7 linked regions of the Homo sapiens genome follow. The protein of the gene in region 1 interacts with the protein of each later gene in a biochemical or structural test. Each region holds a gene or a part of one and is shown in the gene's direction. Other genes may lie near its edges. The genes, in order: SCN4A, FRMPD3, ARHGEF11, GIPC2, SNTG2, HTRA3 and SIPA1L2.

What was found.
Region 2: the proteins of SCN4A (region 1) and FRMPD3 interact in a test that uses a peptide from one of them, tested with the Homo sapiens proteins (one large-scale study listed by IntAct).
Region 3: the proteins of SCN4A (region 1) and ARHGEF11 interact in a test that uses a peptide from one of them, tested with the Homo sapiens proteins (one large-scale study listed by IntAct).
Region 4: the proteins of SCN4A (region 1) and GIPC2 interact in a test that uses a peptide from one of them, tested with the Homo sapiens proteins (one large-scale study listed by IntAct).
Region 5: the proteins of SCN4A (region 1) and SNTG2 interact in a test that uses a peptide from one of them, tested with the Homo sapiens proteins (one large-scale study listed by IntAct).
Region 6: the proteins of SCN4A (region 1) and HTRA3 interact in a test that uses a peptide from one of them, tested with the Homo sapiens proteins (one large-scale study listed by IntAct).
Region 7: the proteins of SCN4A (region 1) and SIPA1L2 interact in a test that uses a peptide from one of them, tested with the Homo sapiens proteins (one large-scale study listed by IntAct).

What each region holds. Positions count from the first base shown.
Region 1 is NC_000017.11:63,938,054-63,941,918, reverse strand, and holds the end of SCN4A (sodium channel protein type 4 subunit alpha), read left to right. Parts: coding exon 1-1,148; 3' UTR 1,149-3,365; downstream 3,366-3,865. UniProt on the Homo sapiens protein: Pore-forming subunit of Nav1.4, a voltage-gated sodium (Nav) channel that directly mediates the depolarizing phase of action potentials in excitable membranes.
Region 2 is NC_000023.11:107,596,152-107,599,651, forward strand, and holds part of FRMPD3 (FERM and PDZ domain-containing protein 3), read left to right. Parts: intron 1-1,169; coding exon 1,170-1,991; intron 1,992-3,500.
Region 3 is NC_000001.11:156,944,743-156,948,242, reverse strand, and holds part of ARHGEF11 (rho guanine nucleotide exchange factor 11), read left to right. Parts: intron 1-14; coding exon 15-62; intron 63-286; coding exon 287-474; intron 475-792; coding exon 793-939; intron 940-1,227; coding exon 1,228-1,307; intron 1,308-1,455; coding exon 1,456-1,581; intron 1,582-2,080; coding exon 2,081-2,198; intron 2,199-3,045; coding exon 3,046-3,224; intron 3,225-3,500. UniProt on the Homo sapiens protein: May play a role in the regulation of RhoA GTPase by guanine nucleotide-binding alpha-12 (GNA12) and alpha-13 (GNA13). Acts as guanine nucleotide exchange factor (GEF) for RhoA GTPase and may act as GTPase-activating protein (GAP) for GNA12 and GNA13.
Region 4 is NC_000001.11:78,044,807-78,048,765, forward strand, and holds the start of GIPC2 (PDZ domain-containing protein GIPC2), read left to right. Parts: upstream 1-1,159; 5' UTR 1,160-1,288; coding exon 1,289-1,528; coding exon of another isoform or gene 1,529-1,678; intron 1,679-3,959.
Region 5 is NC_000002.12:1,359,849-1,363,348, forward strand, and holds part of SNTG2 (gamma-2-syntrophin), read left to right. Parts: intron 1-3,500. UniProt on the Homo sapiens protein: Adapter protein that binds to and probably organizes the subcellular localization of a variety of proteins. May link various receptors to the actin cytoskeleton and the dystrophin glycoprotein complex.
Region 6 is NC_000004.12:8,304,176-8,307,598, forward strand, and holds the end of HTRA3 (serine protease HTRA3 isoform 1 precursor), read left to right. Parts: intron 1-8; coding exon 9-104; intron 105-1,795; coding exon 1,796-1,961; 3' UTR 1,962-2,923; downstream 2,924-3,423. UniProt on the Homo sapiens protein: Serine protease that cleaves beta-casein/CSN2 as well as several extracellular matrix (ECM) proteoglycans such as decorin/DCN, biglycan/BGN and fibronectin/FN1.
Region 7 is NC_000001.11:232,511,634-232,515,133, reverse strand, and holds part of SIPA1L2 (signal-induced proliferation-associated 1-like protein 2), read left to right. Parts: coding exon 1-1,277; intron 1,278-3,500.

The sequences.
Region 1 (3,865 bases):
TTGGGCGTGTCCTGCGGCTGATCCGCGGGGCCAAGGGCATCCGGACGCTGCTGTTCGCCCTCATGATGTCGCTGCCTGCCCTCTTCAACATCGGCCTCCTCCTCTTCCTGGTCATGTTCATCTACTCCATCTTCGGCATGTCCAACTTTGCCTACGTCAAGAAGGAGTCGGGCATCGATGATATGTTCAACTTCGAGACCTTCGGCAACAGCATCATCTGCCTGTTCGAGATCACCACGTCGGCCGGCTGGGACGGGCTCCTCAACCCCATCCTCAACAGCGGGCCCCCAGACTGTGACCCCAACCTGGAGAACCCGGGCACCAGTGTCAAGGGTGACTGCGGCAACCCCTCCATCGGCATCTGCTTCTTCTGCAGCTATATCATCATCTCCTTCCTCATCGTGGTCAACATGTACATCGCCATCATCCTGGAGAACTTCAATGTGGCCACAGAGGAGAGCAGCGAGCCCCTTGGTGAAGATGACTTTGAGATGTTCTACGAGACATGGGAGAAGTTCGACCCCGACGCCACCCAGTTCATCGCCTACAGCCGCCTCTCAGACTTCGTGGACACCCTGCAGGAACCGCTGAGGATTGCCAAGCCCAACAAGATCAAGCTCATCACACTGGACTTGCCCATGGTGCCAGGGGACAAGATCCACTGCCTGGACATCCTCTTTGCCCTGACCAAAGAGGTCCTGGGTGACTCTGGGGAAATGGACGCCCTCAAGCAGACCATGGAGGAGAAGTTCATGGCAGCCAACCCCTCCAAGGTGTCCTACGAGCCCATCACCACCACCCTCAAGAGGAAGCACGAGGAGGTGTGCGCCATCAAGATCCAGAGGGCCTACCGCCGGCACCTGCTACAGCGCTCCATGAAGCAGGCATCCTACATGTACCGCCACAGCCACGACGGCAGCGGGGATGACGCCCCTGAGAAGGAGGGGCTGCTTGCCAACACCATGAGCAAGATGTATGGCCACGAGAATGGGAACAGCAGCTCGCCAAGCCCGGAGGAGAAGGGCGAGGCAGGGGACGCCGGACCCACTATGGGGCTGATGCCCATCAGCCCCTCAGACACTGCCTGGCCTCCCGCCCCTCCCCCAGGGCAGACTGTGCGCCCAGGTGTCAAGGAGTCTCTTGTCTAGCAGGCAGCATCGGGGTGGCCCACTGAGTCTCGGCATAGTCCCCAGAGCTCCCCCGTGGTGCCTGCACACAGAGTGAGGGAGGAGGGCTTTGAATCTGGGACTGTGCCTGGCTCCCTGATGGGGGACAGGATTTGGCCACACTGGGGCTGACACCCAGGCCCGAGCGCCTGCGTTCCCAGACCATGGGAAATGGGAATTGCGCTCAGGGGCTCCATGCTGGGTCTGAGGCCCCTGCCTCCAAGATTTAACCTGCAAGTTGCTCTGACCTCCTCTGGGCCCTGTCGCCCCTCCTTTTGGCCTGGGGGAGGTCAGAACATTCGAATCTCTGCCCCTCACTTGAGGAGGAGCTGGCCTGCGGTGGAGGGATCAGTTGCCCCCCATCACCAGAGTCTTAAGGGTCACTGGCCTCTCCCCAGGAAGTGGCTCAGACCCCTCAGCCCCAGCCCAGACAAAGATGTCTTAACCTCAGGGAGTGCAGACACCTAACCCCAGGGCACTGCCAGCCCACCCCCTTTGACTCTGGGGTGCAGCTTCACCCACCAGGCCAGCTCAGGAATTCCCTGGAAAAGGGAAATGTGACTGGTTCAGAAATAGCTCCTCAAAGCCTCAAAACCTGATTGGCCACTGGATCCTGCTGCTTTGGGCTGGGATGGTGACTCCTGAAACCTCTTCCTAGGCCACGTCCAGGTCCGTAGCTCCCCTGGCTGGCTCCTAGGGGAAGAGCAGAAGGAAGGATGCCACTTGGGAATGAATTGTCCTTTTCTAGGAAGCACGGGGGAGTGAGACAGGCTGGGTCCTGCCAGCTGGATCGCTGCACATGGCCTGAGCATCCAGACCTGAGCGGGAGTCAGGGACCTGCTGCTCAGTAAGAAGATTCTCGCCCCTTCCCTCTCTCCCTGCCTCACTCCTCCGTGAGCACCACCAGGGCTCCAGGAGCCTCATCCAGCCTCAGAGATCTCCCTTCTCATCTCCCCACGCCCGTCTCTTTCTCACCTTTCCCACCTCTCTCCCCAAAGTGATCCTAAGAATGTACAGTTGAGCTCAGGTTAGATATTTCGACCCTGGGGCGTGCAGCAGGGAAGGCCCAACTGGTTCAGGCTCAACCTTCCAACTTCCTGTGGCCTGAAGAAGCACTTCTGCTGCATCGCTGTTCTGGGCATGGCAGGGCCAGGCCTCTGCTGGCTCAGGAGGAGGGGTGAGAGACCTGCTCAGGCGTCGCTGGATTTATTCACTTGTGTGTGTACCTGTGGCTGTGTGTCTGCTTGTATGCTTTTATAGGCCTGTGTGTATAGCTGTGTGTGTGTTCAAGTGCGTGACTGTATGTGTGTGTGTGAACCACTGTGTACTGGAGCCTGCATTATGCACGTGTCTGGGTATCTTTGTATATATGTGTATATATGTGTGCCCTGGACTGTTTCAAGGTCCATGGAGTACGGCTGGTGTGTCATACTGTGCAGGCCTGTCCCTGGGAGTGTTCCCGTGCCTGGGAGAGTGGACCTGTGCTGTGAGTGTGTGGATGCGTGTGAACGCATGTGGTAAGGTGTGTACTCAGGGCATTCTGTTGGCCTAAGTGCCTCTTCTTTTTCTTCTTGTTTCTCATGAAAAGTTTGATTAAAATTCAGGAAGCAGCAAAACCTTCAAAACAAGACATGTATGTGTGCTTGAGTGTGTGAACACGTGTGTGTGTGTGCACATCTACATGCCATGCCTATGGGCCAGAGTTGTCTTTATTGTCCACCATGCTCTCTCACCTGCTCCCAGTCCTGCCTGAACAGCCCTCTCTCTCACTCCCCTCTCCTCCCCTTCCTGTTTCTCGTTGTCACACCCATGGCCTCAGCCCTGCTCCCTGCCTCCTGCCTATGTCTCCTCTATGGAAGGAGGCCTCCACTCCTTCCATCTCTTCCTTCAGAAGTTTCGTCTAATGGGGGCAGTCTCCCCTTCCTGGCACATTGCCCCTCTGCCTTGCCCTCCTGGGCCCTGGGCTGGCACAGCCCCTGGAGCCTCAGAAATCTGTTTGATTGGATATTCTCCTCGGACTGTGTGCAGGTTGCAGAGGAAGAGTAGATGAGCCGGGTCCGGCCTCTCCCTGCCTGTGGCCCCTCCCCTGCAGACGGATGCCCATTCCTGCCTGGTCCAGTGGGGAACAGGTCCCACGCCAGGCCAGCAGGCGGGCTCCTTTGTACAGTTCTTACAATAAACCCTCCTTGGTGCCTCTGGTATGTGGCTTCTCCCTTCTGCATGTCAGCATGTGGATGCGGATGGGGGCTGAGGGCAGTGAGAAGCAGAAAGGGTCGGTGGGGATTGGAGCCAAACGTGGAAGACACGGGAGCCTCTCAGGGGGCCAGGCAGGATAAGGAGGCCCCAGCTCCCCGCTCTGGCCCAGTCCAGCTCTCTCCAGCCTCCTTACAAAAGCCCCTTAGCTGGAATCCAAGAGACCAGATAGGATCAGGGGTCAAGACCTGGCTCCCACAACAGGCAGCACCACACTCCCTCTCTTCCAGGTGATCCCTGTTGGGACTCTGTGTCCCCAGCTCCTCCTCCCCAGAGGCCCCTTCACTTCTCTGCCCATCTCAGAGGCCTCAAGGTGCCTGTGGGGTACACAGCACAGCCTCTCCCTCTCCTCAGAGGCGCTGACCCCAGGACTGACTTCTGACCCCAGATAGCCCAGGGTCACGTGGACCCGTGACTAAGAATATTCTTATGCGGCAAGTTTAGCC
Region 2 (3,500 bases), on another chromosome or scaffold:
AGTTTGAGTGGCATTTTGAAGGCTTGTTTTCCAGCATCTTGACCACCATGATGAGTTATAAGGGTAATGGCTAAAAACATGGGTTTTGAAGTCTTTCAGACCTAGGCGGAAATCCAGTCTACCACTTGGTCTATGTAACCTTAGGTGAGTCAGTTTCTTTATCCTTAAAATGTGAATAATGATAATAACTACCTCATTGGGTTGTTATGAAGAATAAGTAGGATCATGTATATTAGGACCTTAGCCTAAGTTAGTGCTTGTTTGTTATCTGTCTGTCTGCTGTCCGAGTATATTCTCACAGATAAAATGGGGAAGAGCTCCAAAAACAGTGAGAGAAGGTATTCACAGATAAAGCATTTGCTATAGATAATTCTCAGATGCACACACCTACCATCATTAAGAGCGGTTGACGAGAGCATTTGCCATATGTATGTGTAGCAGGTAGGGCTGGCCCTGCATGAATGCAGAAAAGAATAAAATTTGAAGAATTATAAGAATGCTTCCCCTGCCCTCCTCCCACATATGCACATCCCAGCATATCTCCCATATACTTTACACATTCAGACCCCGGAATTCTAATATAGAGCCTTATTCTTTTAGGATCCCTCCATCAACAGGCCTCTTTGAAATGCAAACTCTTCGGCATTATATGTAGCCTGTTTAACAGGTTCTGACTAAAGCATTAGTAACTTGTCAGATTTATTTCCTTCTGCTAGAAGAGATTCAAGATAACAAGAACAACAGAGCACTGGTGGAAAAGCTCTGAAAAGGGGTGGGGACAGGGGTAGGAACAGTTCCAAGTGGGACATACGTTTACAGCTGACTTTCAGATAGAGGGTATCCATGTAAGAGTCCAGCTGTGCCCAGATACCAGGCCCTAAACCAGGGTGTTCACCCCGACCCCTACCATACCCCATGCCTTTTCCCATTTCAGAGGTGATGGGGCTATTAGCAGCTCAGGTTATTAGACTCTATTCACTCTACTTTCAGGGTCAGCAGTAACATAGCTCATCAACTTCCCTACCTCTAATCTTTGGCAGCCAGGTAATGCTTTGTCTTGGGACCTGCCACTTGATTGTGCTACAGAGACATGGGCCAGAGACAACAAGGGAGCTCATTCACAATCCTTGGCACCAGGGCTCATCTGTTGATTCTCTTTCTGGGTTTAGATTACATGCACAGCGCCCACCGCCCTGTCACTGGGGGCCACCTGGGGAAAAAGGAGAGTAGTTATGTGGGCAGCGTGGGCACCAGCCCCAGGAAATCGAGCCGCTGCACGCCCCCACCTGCCGACTCTGAGCTTGTCAGCTTCTGCTACCTCCATATGCGGGAACAAAGGAAGGAGCAGGAAAGCCGGACAGATGTCAACGAGAACCTAATCTTCTTTGAGGAGACCAGGCCCCGAACCAAGTCTGACCCCACATCCAAAAGCTCTGGCCAAGGTTATGAGGTAGTCCCTGATGACTTTGATGCAGCTAGCCTAGACCACGAGCCTTGTGCCAGCAGGGCCCGGTCCTACACCTTGGACAATTCCCTTGGGGCTGAAGCCCTGAATTTCTACTGTGACTCTTGCAAAGCCAAACTTCAGGAGCAGCTGGGCCCTCGCAAAGGTGGGAAGCCTGGCTCCTCTCGTGACAATATAGTAGATTTGATGTCCCTCCCACCACCTGGGAGTGAGGAGGAGGAGGAGGAGGAAGATGAGACAACTTCTCTGTTGCCAGCCATTGCTGCCCCACCCCCTGGTTTCCGAGACAACAGCTCTGATGAGGATGACCCCAAGCGCCGGGCTGTCCAGAGCCAGGAACAAGGACGCCACCTGCGTGGGCTTCTGTACGATGAGATTCCAGTGACATTGATTGACAGTGTGCAGACCCGGACAGTTCGAGATCATGCCCAGGAGCTAGATGATGCCCTGGTGTCCACTCTGCAGGCTCTAGAAGCCCTGGCTGCATCCGAGGATGGACCACACCCACCACCCCCACAGACTGCAGGTAATGACCGATTCCTTCTCCCTCTTTCCACCCCCTTCTCTTGTCCAACAAGGGCCAGTAGGTAACATTGTGTCTTCCCAAATAGGTGTCAGAGTCACTGAGGTATGTCAGGGCAGTGGATGTACCAAAGGTTCTTTAGATAGGGTCAGAGGAGCAATGATGTTACAGCAGGGAGCAGCTGCTCAGCTCTAGCTAGAGTTCTGGCTCTCGTCATTGCATCTCTTTGGAAATGCCTTACAGATAGATCCCAGGGATTGGGGTCATGACAGCTATGGATGCAGGCCAGGATAGAGGATCAGAGAAAAACTGTGAGAGATGTAGAAGACAGGTGAAGAACAGAACATCCAGCATGCACATGATTGAAAGAAAAGGAAAACGACCAACTCACTACCTAGTGACCTGGGACCAGGGGAGCCAAGGGCCATCACTGCTCATGGCTGAGGTCTTTATCCTGCCTAAGAACATGGGCTCTGAATCAGATGCACCGAAGTCCTGGTTTCTTCAATCATTGTCAGTGTAACCTTTGGCAAGGCACTTACTCTCTCTGAACCTCATTCCATCATCTTAAATGGGTTTTATAAAAGTAGTTCTATCACATGGGGTTGTCACAAGGATTGAATGAGATCATTCATGCAAAGCATGTAAGCACTGCCTAGCACACAGTAAGGCCTCAGTAAGTGGTAGCTATTGTAACTAAGTATTAGTTCACAGGAAAACCGTACAACATGCATGCTGTTCCCTGTTATAAACACATGTATGTCCATCTTGTAGACAAACACATGTCAGACACATACCCATAGTCACACATATGTCCCTCCATATACATACACCTTAAAAAAAGAGAAGAGAGCTGGGCGTGGTGGCTCACACCTGTAATCCCAGCACTTTTGGAGGCCGAGGTGGGCAGATTACTTGAGGTCAGGAGTTCGAGATCAGCCTGGCCAACATGGTGAAAACCTGTCTCTACTAAAAATACAAAAATTAACTGGGTGGGCTGGTGCACACCTGTAGTCTCAGCTACTCAGGAGGCTGAGGCAGGAGAATCGCTTGAACCTGAGAGGCAGAGGTCGCAGTGAGCCGATACTGCACCACTGCACTCCAGCCTGGGTGACAGAGTGAGACTCTAAAAAAAAAAAAGAAGAAAAAAGAAAGAGAAGAGGTAAATGACACAGCAACAGAAAAGGAATAGGGAGGAATAGGGACCACGAGGGATTGGGGTCAGAGAGAGCCTGCCTTTTCCATGTGTGAGGACACCCTTGACATTGGACAACCCCCATGTATTTGGCCCCCAGGGCTGGCATTTCTCTTTGCTTAGAGTCTGGAGAGAGTGCTAGTTGCTCCCAGGCTTGAGTCCCACGTGGCTGCTGGAGAGAGGACAAGCTCAGCTAAATGGCCTCAGCTGCAATGACTGTAGGCGGGCCTGGCCAGATGAGGAGGGATAGAGAGAGACCTCTCTTTGCCAGCCCCTCTTTAGGACAATTAACAAAAATTTCCTAGCTGTTGAATCTA
Region 3 (3,500 bases), on another chromosome or scaffold:
CATTCCCTCCACAGGTCTCTTGAGAACCCAACCCCTCCATTCACTCCCAAAATGGGCCGCAGGTAAGTGATGGGCACGGTGGTGCCTCTGTTTGGTGTCTCTGTGTCCCATCCACACCCAGCTGCTCCTCTCACCTGCAAGGGGCTGGTTGGGTGGCTGTCTCCTCTTCTGGGCCCACTGGTTTCCCATGTGCATGGGGCAAGCAGGTCGGGCAGGAGAGGGAGGGCCAAACCCTCTGTGTGAGTTCTTCCTCCTAAATGAAGCTGAGCTGCCTGTTTTCCCCCAGGAGCATTGAGTCCCCCAGTTTGGGGTTCTGCACAGATACCCTCCTTCCCCACCTCCTAGAGGATGATCTGGGCCAGCTGTCTGACCTGGAGCCAGAGCCAGATGCCCAAAATTGGCAGCATACAGTGGGCAAGGATGTGGTGGCTGGGCTAACCCAGCGGGAGATTGACCGGCAAGAGGTCATCAATGGTGAGAACGTGCTCCACTGCCCCCAGCTCCGCTCACACGTGTGGGAATAGGTCCAGAATGCCTAAGACACAAGGGTGGGAAAGAGGTAAATAGGGTGGGGGGCCCCTGTGTGCTGGAGCAGGTCCACATTGCCTGTTGCTATAAGGTTCCCCTCAGTTCTGGCCCTTGGAGTAAGAGAAAAGTTGCTGTATGATCTGAAACTGGCACTTCAGTTCCCCCAAAAATAGAGTGGTGTGGGAACCAGGTCAGGGACTCTAGATACTTGCTGATCCGTTTTCTCCCTGGCTTTCTACCCTCCTTGTCACAACCACCGCTCAGAGCTGTTTGTGACTGAAGCTTCCCACCTGCGCACACTCCGGGTCCTGGACCTGATCTTCTACCAGCGAATGAAGAAGGAGAACCTGATGCCCCGGGAGGAGCTGGCCCGGCTCTTCCCGAACCTGCCTGAACTCATAGAGATTCACAGTAAGGAGCCTGTGCCCCTCCAGACTCCTCTTCTGCTGCCCTTCAGCTTCCTGTTCCACTTTGGCCCCACTGCCAGGACCTCCCTGAGTAGGTAACCTCCCACCAATCCCTGGTGAGAAAAAGATCTGTGGACAGCCTGAAACCAGCACTGGAGTTCACCCCGAAAGTACAATGGTTTCCAGACCCTTCCCATGGCACTGCTGTCAGAGATTCACTTCTCTCTGTCAGAAAGGTTCTGGCAGTTGAGCTCAACCCCAGGCATTTCTATTTGTTCTCTTCCTGCCCCAGATTCCTGGTGTGAAGCCATGAAGAAGCTCCGGGAGGAAGGCCCCATCATCAAAGAGATCAGTGACCTCATGCTGGCCCGGGTATGGCTCCAAACTTCTCCCTCTTGGCAAGGAGGAGATTGGGGGAGGCAGGGTCTCATTACCCAAGGCCAGAGAATTTGGCAAAGGCAGGGGTCTGGTCCCAGGCAGGGGTTTGATGCCTGGCCCCGTGTCCATTCTGCCTCTTCAGTTTGATGGCCCTGCCCGAGAGGAACTCCAGCAAGTGGCTGCACAGTTCTGTTCCTATCAGTCAATAGCCCTAGAGCTAATCAAGACCAAGCAACGCAAGGAGAGTCGATTCCAGCTCTTCATGCAGGTGCGTCCTTGGCCATGCCTTGGCCTTCCTTCATCTCCATCAAGGTCACCAAGGATCTCCTGAACTTCTCTCCTTCTGGCCACATCATCCCTGTCTACAGCAACTCCCTCTACCCTTCGACACACGCTCCTCAAAAGCACTGACTCACTCTAGACAAAGAGACTTCTGTTTGTTGGAAAGAATCCTGGATTAGCAGTCAGAGGCCTGGCTCACCCACCAGCACCTGTGTGTCCTGAGATGGATCTCAGTTTCCTTGTCTATAGAATGGCAGCAATATGCCTGCCCTTCTGTTTTGACCATATCCCTTTGGATTGGTGTCTCCCTGCCACCACACACCCTTCTCTACATCTTTAAGGAAGAAGCTTCCACTGCCATTTCTGAGTGATCCATCTGGCGTTAGGACCTGTTTGTCATGTTCACACCCATCTTGGCCCTGAGCCCATAAGCCAGCTCCCAGCCACGCTGACATCTCCTCCCTTCTGTGTCTCCTGCTGTCTAGGAGGCTGAGAGCCACCCTCAGTGTCGGCGGCTGCAGCTGAGAGACCTCATCATCTCTGAGATGCAGCGGCTCACCAAGTACCCGCTGCTGCTGGAGAGCATCATCAAGCACACAGAGGGTAGCACCTGGGGAGGGGCTGGCATCACAGGCAGTGGGCCTCGTGCCAGACCCTCATTCTGACACTGCTTTGTGACCTTAGCAAGTCACTGTGCCTTGTGGTCTTTGGTGTCTTCGTCCTTTTTCTGTTGTGGGGTGTTTCAGAGAAGAAAATGATTGTAAATGTCCTTTGGAAAATATAAGGTGTTTAATAGTGGGAGGAGTAGGGGCCACCATCGAAGGCCACCTGTGTGGGCCTTTGTGCAAATCCAAGGAAAGCATCCGGTGCCCAACACAGGCTGGCACTCAAGGGCACCTGGGTCCCTCTGGTTGCATGGGGCTGGATTTTATCCCCATTCATGCCCCCTGCAGTGCACAAAAGACACAGCCTATGTGGTTACACTAGAGGGGCAGGGGACCAGACTGAACAAGAGGGTCTAGCCTCAGGTTATCACTCTCCCTGGGATCCTGGGCATCTTTCACTACCCCCAAATTTCAGACATTGGAGTCAGGACAGAGAGGTGTTAGGAACCCCAATCTGATTTGAACAGGCTTTCTAGAGGCATAATTGTGGCCATTTACCACAGTCTCTGTCCCTTGCATCTGTAGAGCTGGTTGTAGTAGAGGCAGGGATTCCCAGGAGCTATCAGCGTCTTCAAAGCAGTGATCTGTCTGAGACCTGAAGATGCTCAGTAAAAGTTACCCTTACCACTTGGGGTCCTCATGTGAGGCAAGGGTGGCTCCCCTCCACCCACGCCTGCTGGTTTGAAGCAAGCCAGCTGCCATGGATGAATAGGCAGATAACAGCTGGCGCCATGTTGGACTTCTCAGGCAGGAGCCCCAACCATCTCTTCTGTCCATTTTGGTAGGTGGCACCTCTGAGCATGAGAAGCTGTGCCGGGCCCGGGACCAGTGCCGGGAGATTCTCAAGTATGTGAATGAAGCGGTAAAACAAACAGAGAACCGCCACCGTTTAGAGGGCTACCAGAAACGCCTGGATGCCACCGCCCTGGAGAGGGCCAGCAACCCCCTGGCAGCAGAGTTCAAGGTAGGAGGCAGAGGCTGCAGCAGTCAACCCCTCACACTTTGTGGGTACCCTTAGGAGCAGAACACTGGTCAGGGCTTGGAGAGTCTTAGAGGTAGGAGACAGAGACCAGATAGGGTGGCACAATGGAGCCCCAGAAGACACACACCCTGCTATTGTCACCCTGTCCCTAGATGGACAAGGCAGGCCGCCCCACCTAAGAAAGACTAGATGTTGGAACTCAGCCTGAGAGAGCAGGGGATGGGGTAGAACTGGAGGTAAGGTGGAGATCTTCTGGGA
Region 4 (3,959 bases), on another chromosome or scaffold:
TCTCAATTTGGGTTTCCTACAGTACATTCCCTTTCTGGTAGAATAAGCTGGAGTTGGAGACATTTGGTAGACAACAACGTCTGTGAAACCGAGAATGTTGATGTGACCATACAGGAAGAACATGCAAAGCTAAGTAAGAAGGGAAGTTTGTCGAGGAAAAACTGTCGGTGAATGCAACTCCTGGAGACTAGCAGTTAGCAAGGAGCAGGGTGGGGACGGGGAGAGGAGAGGTAAGGAAGCCAAAAGAGGACAAAATTTAAGAAGAATGAAATGGGCAACGCAGACCAAGTAAGATAAAAACCTAAAAGAATTACTTGTATTTGGTAATTAAGATATGATAGTGATTTCACTCCACTGAAATTGCATAGTAAGTGAAATTTCAGTAGTGTGGGGGCAAAGTCTGATCACAGTGCTTCTAAGAGCAGAGAAGTGAGGAAATTTCGTAGCTAATAATTCAAGACTGTTTTGCTTTGTTGTAAAAAGCGTAGTTGGAGGGGACTGGACTTGAAAACAATGCAATAAACGCGAGGTAGGGAATTGAGGGAACTCACACTTCACACCGAATGGCCTCAATTTTCTTTGTACTATATGAGGCAAGGTCCTCTGTAGAGACTAAGAAGGGCAGAGCTGGGGCAAATGGCTTTGGAGGCGTGCTGAATGTTGGGAGAGGAAGCAGCCCAGGAAATAGGCAAAAGGGAAACTCAGAGGTGCCAAGGACCCGGCTGAGGGGGTTTATGAATACAACGTAGCACCAAGCTCAAGGTTATGTGACTTTCTCTTCCAATTCTGCCCTGCAGAGCGTAAGACGCAGAAAATGCAGACGAAGGTTGACTTCTACTTAAATCCCTATCCCCGAAAGTCCAGACGTACGGACCCGAAGGCCTGTGGCCAAATCATGCGTGGGTGCCTACTACAGATTTATGAAAAGCAGAGAAGGGCCAGCGTGTTTGCCTTCTAAGGCGTATTGTTCTGTAGCGTCGGCATCCTCAGGCGTTCACGTAAATAGAGCCATTTTTTACAAGGAGTAGGGATAAACCTGGTGATAGGATGAGGGACTACGTAACTTTCTTTCTCTCCAGATCCATCCCGGGGGAGGCTGGGCGGGCGGGCGGCTGCTCCGGTCCAGGGGTGGAGGTCGGGGCCCTGACCCGACGCAGCCAGGCGGAAGCGCGGCTGCCATTGGAGGCTGCTTTTACCTGCGCGGGGCCCGGGGCGCAAAGTCCGAGGCGCCGGGGGGAGGAGGCGGCGGACGGCAGCGCAGGTGGGCCCGCGCTCTCGGCCCTGCAAGATGCCCCTGAAGCTGCGGGGGAAGAAGAAGGCCAAGTCCAAGGAGACCGCCGGGCTGGTGGAGGGCGAGCCGACGGGCGCGGGCGGCGGGAGCCTCTCAGCGTCCCGGGCTCCCGCACGCAGGCTGGTCTTCCACGCGCAGCTGGCGCACGGTAGTGCCACGGGCCGAGTGGAGGGCTTCTCCAGCATCCAGGAGCTCTACGCCCAGATCGCGGGCGCGTTTGAAATCTCGCCGTCGGAGGTAAGGCGCCAGGTGCTCAGGCTCTCCCGCCTCTCCGCCGCGCCGCGCCGCGCCGCGCGTATTTCTGTGGGCCCAGGAGGGTTGAGCGGCGTTTCCCGGAGCGCGAAATCCGATGCCGTGTTGAGTCCGCCGGGGGCGTCCCGGGGGAAAGTGAGTGTGCCTTCCCTGGAAGGGAAAATTTAACTTGGCAGGACCGCAGAAAGTCACAGTCCCCCTTGCTCCGAGATCTGGCCTTTGGGAAGCGGGTTGAGGGAGGCAACCTTTCTTCCGCTTGCAAATGTGTTTGCTCCAGATGTCCCGGATTCCGCCGGCCGTTCAAGGCGTGAGCACCTTCCCAGACTCGAGATCTGGCGGGGCAGATTAATACCCTCCACTTCATCTGGACTTTACTCTCCTGTTTCCTCCGCAGGCGTGAGAGTCACGCAGGTCATCTCCCTAGATTAACGGGGGAAAAAAAAAATAGAAGTGCCTTGCAGGTGATACCCAGATTAAGTGGGGGGGAAAACATTGAAGAGCCTTCCAGGTAATACCAAACGGAGGCCCACTTTCCCCCAATCTGTCATTTCTAACATCAGCACCAGAAACCCTTTGGTGGTATTTCCAAGAAGTTTAAAAAGCTGGGCTGTTATTCCAAGAGTGGATAACCTAGAGATTCATACTTAATCACGTGGGACTAGTTAACAAAATTTTCATGAGGAAGATCAGCTCTTTTACATCGTATCCTTAAAAAGGGACTGAAATTTGCTTTAATTAGATTTCATGGGGGCCTGGAACTAAGTTTGACACAGGCATGACCTAAAGCACTAGTTTATGTGAACGTTTATGTGACCACTTTATTTGTGCTAACCCAAGTGAACTGCAAAGGTAGGTGTGAAAAGTTAGCTCAACAAAATATTTTGTCCACATTTCTAGGAAAAGCATATAATTTTGTTGCCCTGGACTCAGAGGAGTGCAGAGAGCTGTCTTTGAGGCCTACAGCGGCACCTGGAGTTCTTTAATTAGTTGTTTATCAGGTCTGTTCAAGGGAAATTGAGGTCAAGGCAAAATTCCAAGAGGAGACGAAAGAGAGCTTAAAGTGTAACCCTTTGTTCTTTCGAAGTTCCCAGGCACTAAGGGGCAAATCGCAAACCCATCTGTGAATTATTTGTATTGATATAGGATACTAATAATACTTCACATTTATATAGGATTTTTTTTTTTTCAAAAAACACTTTCACAGGACACTTTCCTTTGATCTCTAGGGGAGGCAGGTGGCAGGTTAAATACGATAACTTGGACATGGAGCCAGGTTCTACCCTTTACTAGCTGTGTGGACTTGAATGAGTTTAACTTCTCTCAGTTTTCGCCATCTGTAAAATAGAGATTAGAATATTTGTCTTGAAGAGTATTGTGAAGAGTGGAGTCCGTATGTAAACGTATCAGATTGCATAGTTTATGGTTAGGGCTTAATACATGGTAACTAATATGATTAATACCTAACAGTTAAATGAAGGACTGAAGTACAAAGTGATTGGCCCTTAGCCAAGGTCACATACCTAGCAAAAAAAAACTTGACTGTAATTTAAACTTGGATCTTCTGATTCCTAAGCTAGTGAGCTTGTTAGCATACTTAACTGACAACTTTAAATGTCTTTGCTGTAACCAGGGACTTCAGTTTTAGTTACAGATGGTCCTGGGTTTATGATAGTTAGACTTAAGATTTTTGACTTCGCCATGGATTTATTAGGATGTAACTTCCTGGACTTAAGATTTTTCCACTTTATGGGTTTATTGGGGTATTAAATGCATTTTTGACTTATGATATTTTTGACTCACAATGGATTTATTGGGACATAACACCTTGGTAAGTAGAGGAGCATGTGTATTTTGCATTAACACTTCTCATCATTATATATGACATTATTCTGAGCTCAAGGTACATGATTTTATTCAATCTACTTAATCCCTAAGAAGTAAGTATTATTATTAATATCCCCACTTCACAGAGAGGAAACAGACTTTGAGGTTCAGAATTTTTCCAGAATTACACATAGCAAGTGGCAGAGCCTGGATTTGAATTCAGTGTATTCTTTTTTTTTGTTTTCTGTTTTTCTTTTCTTTTTTTTTTAATGAGATGGGGTCTCACTCTGTTGCCCAGGCTGGACTGCAGTGGTGCGATTATAGCTCACTATAGCTTCAAACTCCTAGGCTCAAGCAATCCTCCTGCTTCACCCTCCCAAGTAGCTGGGACTACAGGCATGTGCCACCACATCTGGCTAATTAAAAAAACTTTTTTTTAGAGATGTGGTTTTTCTGTGTTGCTCAGTGTGGTTTGAAACTCCTACTCTCAAGTGATCCTCCTACCTCAGTCTCTTGAATAACACAGACACGGAGCCATTGTGCCCATCTTTTTTTTTTCCTCCCATGAAGCTATATTGTTACCCAAGTTTTC
Region 5 (3,500 bases), on another chromosome or scaffold:
TTTTTTCTCTTTCATTAGAATGCTGCCTTTCTGTAGTAATATTGAGAAACATTTTACTTTGTCCATATCTTCTTTCCATTTAACAATATTACCAAAAACAAGCAAACAAAGAAACTAAAGCTCAATTTATTCAACCAAAAATGGTTATTTATCTTCATTTCTTTACATTTAAGGGCACTGAACAAATTCTATCCCATTTTTCCCATAGGAAAAAAAAAAGTACATTAAATGATTGAAAGAAGTTATCTGTATTCATTTTCTATCGATGCTTAACAAATTAACACAAATATAGTAGATTAGAGACACACATTTATCCTCTTACAGTTCTCTAAGAACTTGTCTCTTAGGGCTAAAATCAAGGTGTTGGCTGCTTTCTCCTGCAGCCTCTGGGGGACAGTCTGTTTTCTTGGCTTTCCCAGCATCTGGAGGCTTTGCCCTTGTGCTCTGAGCTCACCTGTGCCAGAAAGCTCCAGCCACCGCAGCTTTGGAAGCATGCCTCCCTCTCTGCCCTCAGAGTGGAGGATCTTGTATGAAGCCTGGATCACCAGCCCAGCCTGTTCAGGAGAGCTCTCTCTGGGGTGTGTTCCTTCCAGCAGCACAGCTTAGAAGGAAGGTATAGGGTGGAAGTTCAAAAGGATCAAGATATTTTTATTTCCAGAAGGTTATTGGACTCTTTGTGCACTGGCACCTGCCACAACAAGTGAGGGGAAGCTCCTTGCCTTTTCTATTTCCCTTATATTTGTGTGACTAAAAGAGGCTACTCTAGTGTTTTTAATTTCCTTTTCTTAAAAACACAAACAAACAAAAAAAAAGTCTGTCCCTAGGGGATTTTCTTTCCTTCTCACTCAGACAGAAGCAGCAAACATACGGTGTCTGATTTCACCCCCCTACATCCAGCATCATACACAGATGAGCAAACCCTTCACTCAGGAAGGGGATGAGTGATTTTTCTTTCAATATTTGTAGAGATGGAGTCTCTAAATAAGAGAGCAGTGTCTGCTTGGCCTACCATTGGAGCCTGATTCTGCATAACGATTCCAGTCACCTGCGTGTCCCAGTGGTTTTTTGTCTTACTTAAGAGAGTTCTTTTGGAGATCCCACCCACAGGCTCTGACCTTATGGAATATTCAAAGCTGATGCAGTCCCCAGCGCTGTCTCTTCCATTCCACTAGCATCCATCAACTCAGTCAGCTCAGACACAGCCCTGAGCAGTAAACTGCGTCCTTGGGGCCTTTGGTCCAAGCCTCAGTGCTTTTTCTAGCTTTGCCTTCTGTGCTTCAGCCACTGGATTCAGATTCCATTGTCCCATCTGTGGGGGCCAACGTGAAGCTTTAAATAAACATGTAAACATCTTTTATTTGTTACAGCCTGTGACATTATGATTACATCATTCTCCACCAACAATAAGAAAATTTACATTACAATGATTTGTCCCATTGAGTGTGTAGCACGAAATTCTCATGGAATTTAATAAATGGTCATCAAGTTGACCCATTTAAAAAAAAAAACTCACAGAATTTTGAAAACCACAGCATGGCAAATCATTATTGGAGACAGACAGTGCAATTAACACAGTGAGGTGGCTGAGAAGTTCCACAATAGCAAAAGTATCCCGCCTTCTTCAATCTACTTTTCTCCAAATCTATGCAAACAAAGAGTGTTTAAAAAATATAACTTTTTAATATCAAACACATTTTGGGAAATGCTGCTGTGTTGATACCATCACATTTCAGTAAAACTTCCATGAAAGTCACCGACGCTGAGCATTTCAGTAGAACTTCCACGAAGGTCACCGATGCTGAGCATTTCAGTAGAACTTCCATGAAAGTCACCGACGCTGAGCATTTCAGTAGAACTTCTGTGAAGGTCACCGATGCTGAGCATTTCAGTAGAACTTCCATGAAGGTCACCGATGCTGAGCATTTCAGTAGAACTTCCATGAAGGTCACCGATGCTGAGCATTTCAGTAGAACTTCCATGAAAGTCACGGATGCTGAGCATTTCAGTAGAACTTCCATGAAAGTCACCAACGCTGAGCATTTCAGTAGAACTTCCATGAAGGTCACCAACGCTGAGCATTTCAGTAGAACTTCCATGAAGGTCACCAACGCTGAGCATTTCAGTAGAACTTCCATGAAAGTCACTGATGCTGAGCATTTCAGTAGAACTTCCATGAAAGTCATTGATGCTGAGCATTTCAGTAGAACTTCCATGAGAGTCACTGAGGCTGAGCATTTCAGTAGAACTTCCATGAAAGTCACTGATGCTGAGCATTTCAGTAGAACTTCCACGAAGGTCACCGACCCTGAGCATTTCAGTAGAACTTCCATGAGATACACCGATGCTGAGCATTTCAGTAGAACTTCCACGAAGGTCACCAACACTGAGTGTTTCAGTAGAACTTCCGTGAAAGTCACCGACGCTAAGCATTTCAATAGAACTTCCATGAAGGTCACCGACACTGAGCATTTCAGTAGAACTTCCGTGAAAGTCACCGACGCTGAGCATTTCAATAGAACTTCTGTGAAGGTCACCAACGCTGAGCATTTCAGTAGAACTTCCACAAAGGTCACTAACGCTGAGCATTTCAGTAGAACTTCCATGAAGGTCACCGATGCTGAGCATTTCAGTAGAACTTCCACGAAGGTCACCGACGCTGAGCATTTCAGTAGAACTTCCGTGAAAGTCACCAATGCTGAGCATTTCAATAGAACTTCCATGAAGGTCACCGACACTGAGCATTTCAGTAGAGCTTCCATGAAGGTCACCGACACTGAGCATTTCAGTAGAACTTCCATGAAAGTCACCAACGCTGAGCATTTCAGTAGAACTTCCGTGAAGGTCACCGACGCTGAGCATTTCAGTAGAACTTCCGTGAAAGTCACCGACGCTGAGCATTTCAATAGAACTTCCACGAAGGTCACCGACGCTGAGCATTTCAATAGAACTTCCGTGAAAGTCACCGATGCTGAGCATTTCAGTAGAACTTCCATGGAAGTTACCAATGCTGAGCATTTCAGTAGAACTTCCATGAAAGTCACCAACGCTGAGCATTTCAGTAGAACTTCCACGAAGGTCACCGATGCTGAGCATTTCAGTAGAACTTCCACGAAAATGACTGACACTGAGCATTTCAGTAGAATTTCCATGGAAGTCACCAACGCTGAGCATTTCAGTAGAACTTCCATGAAAGTCACCGATGCTGAGCATTTCCATAGAACTTCCATGAAAGTGACCGGCGCTGAGATGGAATGACTCCTGTGAAACCCTCACAAAATGGACCCCCCCCATGAAAGAGGAACCATGAATATTTACCTGATAACAAGAAGTACCACAAAAGACCCTGGCAACACCACAAGCTGCACAAAGACCACTGCAACCTTGTGCAAAGACAAGTCTTCTATGAGGACACAAGCTCCCCTTGCTATTGATCCTTGTAGCCAAGGATAACGGTTTCAAAACAACTTCTGTAACCTCCTCACTTTGCCTTTAAGCTTTCC
Region 6 (3,423 bases), on another chromosome or scaffold:
CTTTCCAGCCTGGTGGATGAGCTGAAGGCCAGCAACCCGGACTTCCCAGAGGTCAGCAGTGGAATTTATGTGCAAGAGGTTGCGCCGAATTCACCTTCTCAGAGGTAGGCTCTGCCAGAGGAGATCGCTCGAGGCATGGGGCAGGCGTGAGGTCTGGGCTGGGGCTGCCCCACTGACCTCATGTGACCTTGAGCTTCCCAGCAAAGTGACCGGGAAGGGGCAGGTGGATTCTAGCGTGTCTGCTAAGCCAGAGGAGGCTGGAGAGCTGAATGGTCCCTAGAGCCCTGACTGTGTACGTCCTAAGTCCCACAATGTCATTTCCTTCGAGAAGCAGAGGCTGAAGAGTCCCTGTTGGGCTAAGAACCCACTCCAAGCCAGACTCTTTCACTAGCTGGGGACCAGCCTGGGTCCTGGGTCTTTCTGGGACTCAGCTTCCTCATTGTAAAGTGGAGATAATTCAGCCTATTGTTTTTTTTTTTTTTTTTTTTTTTTTTTTTTTGAGACAGTCTCCCTCTTGTTGCCCAGCCTGGAGTGCAGTGTCGCGATCTCAGCTCACTGCAACCTCTGCCTCCTGGGCTCAAGCGACTCTCCTGCCTCAGCCTTCTGAGTAGCTCAGATTACAAGTGCCCACCACCATGCCCTGCTAATTGTTTTTGTATTTTTAGTAGAGAAGGGGTTTCACCACGTTGGCCAGGCTAGTCTTGAACTGCTGACCTCAGGCGATCCACCTGCCTTGGCCTCCCAAAGTGCTGGGATTTCTACCCCCAGGAGACTTTGTAGATGAAATGGATAAAGGATTGCTTTCTTTGAAGTCTTCCAGTACTAGAGAAATGTTAAGCATTGCAACACCATAGGCTGAGGCAGGCGTGCAGCGACACTACCACATGCTGGCATGGCTGACCCACTCCCAAGAAGGGCTCTGAACCAGTTGCCTCCCCTCCTTAGCCTCGGTCTTCATCTGCAGTGGGAAAAATCCACATATAAGTGGACCCACACAGTTCAGACCCATGTTGTTCAAGGGCCGACTGTACTGTGCATCCTCAGAGGCTGGGCTTGAAGGTGGGAGGCCCCGCGTGAACTTCTGTGATGAGCACAGATGGCACACTTGTCCTGCCCGCAGCAGGCCTGCAGTAAAAATTGTTGAAATTGGGTGAAATTTTCCACACACATCTCAGTTAATCCTCACTGCAGCCAGGGAGGTGCAGGCTCCTGCCCTCACCCATTTTACAGGTGGAGGGACTGAGGTTTAGAGAAGTTACTCTTCCAGGTCACACAGCTGGCATGTGAGGGTCCTGATGCTGGTGCCCACGCAGCTGAGCACAGTACCATCACCTTCCTTCCCAGCAGTGGGGAGGTCTCAGTGAGCCTCATGCAGAGAGAAGGCTGGCCCCGTGAGCTCTGCCTCCCACATAGACGTCTTCGTAACTGCAGTAACAGCAGAACCTACTCCTGGGCCTTTATAATTTGCAAAGTGCGTTTCCACATAGGATGGTAGACATGAAAACTGAGGCACAAGGGGACAGAGTGCCTGGCCCAGCTAGGAGGGCTGCAGCGGGAGCTTGAACCCACCCTTCTGACGCATGGGAGAAGCAGTTTGAAAGGTTGTTTCCCTGTCGTGTGACATTGGTTTTCTTCTGGTGTGAGAGCTTTGGGGCTGGGGCACTGTTCTTTCCCATCGAGATGACTTTTGTTGAAATGTTGTCATTGACCCTGACTGTGCCTCGCTCTGGGCCGGGCCTGGGAAGGCTGTGCCTGGGGAGGCGGTGGGTGGTGACCCCGTCTCTCCTGTTGGCAGAGGCGGCATCCAAGATGGTGACATCATCGTCAAGGTCAACGGGCGTCCTCTAGTGGACTCGAGTGAGCTGCAGGAGGCCGTGCTGACCGAGTCTCCTCTCCTACTGGAGGTGCGGCGGGGGAACGACGACCTCCTCTTCAGCATCGCACCTGAGGTGGTCATGTGAGGGGCGCATTCCTCCAGCGCCAAGCGTCAGAGCCTGCAGACAACGGAGGGCAGCGCCCCCCCGAGATCAGGACGAAGGACCACCGTCGGTCCTCAGCAGGGCGGCAGCCTCCTCCTGGCTGTCCGGGGCAGAGCGGAGGCTGGGCTTGGCCAGGGGCCCGAATTTCCGCCTGGGGAGTGTTGGATCCACATCCCGGTGCCGGGGAGGGAAGCCCAACATCCCCTTGTACAGATGATCCTGAAAGTCACTTCCAAGTTCTCCGGATATTCACAAAACTGCCTTCCATGGAGGTCCCCTCCTCTCCTAGCTTCCCGCCTCTGCCCCTGTGAACACCCATCTGCAGTATCCCCTGCTCCTGCCCCTCCTACTGCAGGTCTGGGCTGCCAAGCTTCTTCCCCCCTGACAAACGCCCACCTGACCTGAGGCCCCAGCTTCCCTCTGCCCTAGGACTTACCAAGCTGTAGGGCCAGGGCTGCTGCCTGCCAGCCTGGGGTCCCTGGAGGACAGGTCACATCTGATCCCTTTGGGGTGCGGGGGTGGGGTCCAGCCCAGAGCAGGCACTGAGTGAATGCCCCCTGGCTGCGGAGCTGAGCCCCGCCCTGCCATGAGGTTTTCCTCCCCAGGCAGGCAGGAGGCCGCGGGGAGCACGTGGAAAGTTGGCTGCTGCCTGGGGAAGCTTCTCCTCCCCAAGGCGGCCATGGGGCAGCCTGCAGAGGACAGTGGACGTGGAGCTGCGGGGTGTGAGGACTGAGCCGGCTTCCCCTTCCCACGCAGCTCTGGGATGCAGCAGCCGCTCGCATGGAAGTGCCGCCCAGAGGCATGCAGGCTGCTGGGCACCACCCCCTCATCCAGGGAACGAGTGTGTCTCAAGGGGCATTTGTGAGCTTTGCTGTAAATGGATTCCCAGTGTTGCTTGTACTGTATGTTTCTCTACTGTATGGAAAATAAAGTTTACAAGCACACGGTTCTCAGCCAGCAGGGCACTGGGGCAGCCTACCCACCACTGGCCAGGGTTCTTCCTGGGGACCCATCTAACACATGACTGGGCATACCTGCAAAGACACGGGCCTTTAAAGGGTTTCTATGACAGCTGAGCACTGGGGCACACCAGGTCTCGGGGTCATGTGGCGCTGTGGAGGGCCAGCTCCGAGTCAGGCAGCCCGGCTCAAGTCCTGGCTCCTCCGCTTACTTCCGGCTTCGTGGTCTTGGGCAAGAGATGTTCCCCTCCCTACCTTGGCCTCTGCCTCTGTCCAGCAGGAAGGCTGGCTCTGCTGTGCTGACCTCCTGGATGCCCTGGGATGCAAGGTGACAGATGCAGCACTTGGGAAGCCACCCGGCTTACGGGGAGCTCCCACTAAGCCCCACTGTGCACGTCTGGTCACATGAAGAACCCTTTCTCACATCTATTTCACCCTCCCTGCCACCCATCCAGCGATGGGGAAACTGAGGCAGAGAGCAATTT
Region 7 (3,500 bases), on another chromosome or scaffold:
AGCTGTGCCCAAGATGGGTGTGAGAGCAAGGGTGTCTGAATGGCCTCCTAAAAAGGACTGTTCCAAGGAGCTAACATGCAAGGCACTGTGGGAAAGCCGGTCTCAGACCAGTTATGAAAGCATCACTTCTGTCCTGCAGAATGGGCAGAGTGACCAGAGTGAAGGTCAGCAAGATGAACAGCTCGATCTGGACTTCGTGGAGGCCAAGTACACAATCGGAGACATCTTTGTCCATTCCCCCCAAAGAGGACTTCACCCCATAAGACAGAGGAGCAATAGTGATGTCACTATCAGTGACATTGATGCCGAAGATGTCTTAGACCAAAATGCAGTCAACCCCAACACCGGGGCTGCCCTGCACAGGGAGTATGGAAGTACTTCATCCATCGACAGGCAAGGCTTATCTGGTGAAAACTTTTTTGCTATGCTCAGAGGGTACCGAGTAGAAAATTATGACCACAAAGCAATGGTCCCTTTTGGGTTCCCTGAATTTTTCCGCTGTGACCCTGCAATCTCTCCGAGCCTTCATGCAGCAGCACAGATTTCTAGGGGAGAATTTGTCCGCATCTCAGGATTAGATTATGTGGACAGTGCCCTCCTGATGGGGAGAGACAGGGACAAGCCTTTCAAACGGAGGTTGAAATCAGAGTCGGTGGAAACATCTCTCTTCCGAAAGCTTCGAACTGTTAAAAGTGAGCACGAAACTTTCAAGTTCACGTCTGAGCTGGAGGAGAGCCGACTGGAGAGGGGCATTCGCCCTTGGAATTGTCAGCGATGTTTTGCACATTATGATGTCCAGAGCATTTTGTTTAATATCAACGAAGCCATGGCTACGAGGGCTAATGTGGGGAAAAGGAAAAACATAACCACTGGGGCATCTGCAGCATCCCAGACTCAGATGCCTACGGGCCAGACAGGCAACTGTGAGTCCCCTTTAGGGAGCAAGGAGGACCTCAACTCCAAAGAGAACCTGGATGCCGATGAGGGTGATGGGAAAAGTAACGACCTCGTCCTTAGTTGTCCTTACTTTAGAAATGAGACTGGAGGGGAAGGCGACAGGCGGATTGCGCTCTCTCGAGCCAACTCATCCTCTTTCAGTTCTGGGGAAAGCTGCTCTTTCGAATCGTCACTCAGCTCTCACTGCACAAATGCAGGTGTCTCCGTCTTGGAAGTGCCCAGAGAAAACCAGCCTATTCACAGGGAGAAAGTGAAGCGCTACATCATAGAACACATTGACCTTGGGGCCTATTATTACCGCAAATTCTTCTATGGGAAAGGTAAGGAAGAGCCATGGGCGTTTGCATGTGTCTCGGGAGTAGTTTTTTAAGAACCAGTCACAATGTTTTGCTTTGTGTTGGAGCACCTTCCTCAGAGTGTCCAAGGCCATAGTCCACTGGGCCTGACCTTGTTCTCCATCATGGTCCCTCCATAGCTTCCAGGCTAATTTTTTCTTTAGAAAACTGCAATTCCATGCCTTTGTTTATGGGTAGTCCTTAATGTGTAAATGCCCTTTTGGTTTCTCTTTCTGTCATTCTTTGTCTGCCAATTTGTGATCATCACAAATTCAGACTTGATTTAGATTTCATCCCTTGTAAGAAGTCTTCCCTGATTAATTCTGTCCTCCTCCTATTCCTCTGAATAATCTCTTATGCTGCTTACAGTGGAAAATTCTGTGTTTCCCTCACCTCTCTAATCTTTCTGTACTTTGCTTCTCCAGCATTGCTGTATGTGTTGGACATGTTAAATCTTTGTTGAAAGAATGCCTGAATTACCACAACAGACAAATTTTGTTTTCATGTAGTTCTATAGATGGGCTTAAATGTTAAGACACAAGTGATAAATTATTTAATTCTATGTCAAATAAATGGTTTTTGCTTTACGTATATCTTCAGGCTTGAAGGATGCATTCTTCAGAGGTCATGTAGTTGAATCCTCAACCTTTAAATAAGTGTCCCTAATTATCCCAGGGCTAGGAGAATCTTCTCTGATTTAAAGACCTACAGAGAAACAGGTTCCACATGTGTCAGTAACACATGCCGAGGAAAACACTCCGGCACCTCTCACCACCTTCTTATTGGGTGCAGCTGGTGTCCTTCACGCCTTCATTATAGTGCAGCTTACTTTTCAGAGCTATATTTTTCTGTCTTCAGTTTCACCCGTCAGCCCTCTTCCTGCTCCCAGGGATCCAGGGATAACCTCACAGAGTGCCTGAGGAGGCAGAGGGTGGGCCCCGCTACTCTCCTCCTCCTTTTTCTCAGTGCATAAACTATTCTGCTTCTAGCACAGATAGCTGGGAGCTCACTGTACTTTTATTTATTTATTTTTTTTTTTACTTTAAGTTCTGGGATACATGTTCTGAACATGCAGGTTTTTTACATAGTTATACTTGTGCTATGGTGGTTTGCTGCACCTGTCAACCCATCATCTGGGTTTTAAGCCCTGAATGCATTAGGTGTTTGTCCTAAAGCTCTCCCTCCTGCTTATGAGTGAGAACATGCAGCGTTTGGTTTTCTGTTCCTGTGTTAGTTTGCTGAGAATGATGGTTTCCAGCTTCATCCATGTCCCTGCAAAGGACATGAGCTCATTCTTTTTTATGGCTACATAGTATCCATGGTGTATATGTATGGTAGTTTCTTTATCTAGTCTATCATTGATGGGCATTGGGGTTGGTTCCAAGTCTTTGGTATTGTAAATAGTGCTGCAATAAACATATGTGTGCATGTGCCTTTATAGTAGAATGATTTATAATCCTTTGGGTATATACCCAGTAATGACATTGCTGGGTCAAATGGTATTTCTGGTTCTAGATCCTTGAGGAATCGCCACACTGTCTTCCACAATAGCTGAACTAATTTACACTCCCACCAACAGTGTAAAAATGTTCCTATTTGTCCACATCCTCTCCAGCATCTGTTGTTTCCTGACTTTAATGATCGCCATTCTAATTGGCGTGAGATGGTATCTCATTGAGGTTTTGATTTGCATTTCTTTAATGACCAGTGATGATGAGCTTTTTTCATATGTTTGTTGGCCGCATAAATGTCTTCTTTTGAGAAGTGTCTGTTCATATCCTTTGCCCACTTTTTGATGGGGTTGTTTTGTTCTTGTAAATTTGTTTCAGTTCCTTGTAGATTCTGGATATTAGCCCTTTGTCAGATGGACAGATTGCAAAAATTTTCTCCCATTCTGTAGGTTGCCTGTTGCCTCTGATGATAGTTTCTTTTGCTGTGTAGAAGCTCTTTAGTTTAATTAGATCCCATTTGTCATTTTTGGCTTCTGTTGTCATTGCTTTTGCTGTTTTAGTCATGAAGTCTTTGCCCATGCCTATGTCCTGAATGGTATTGCCCAGGTTTTCTTCTAGGGTTTTTATGGTTTTAGATTTTAATTTCATCAGTATTGGTTTCTGTCTTGAGAATATTTGTGTAATTTTTGACTGTAGTTTGTTTTATTGGAGTGGGTTGGGGAGGGTGGGTAACACAGACCTTAGGAGGTCACTCTGT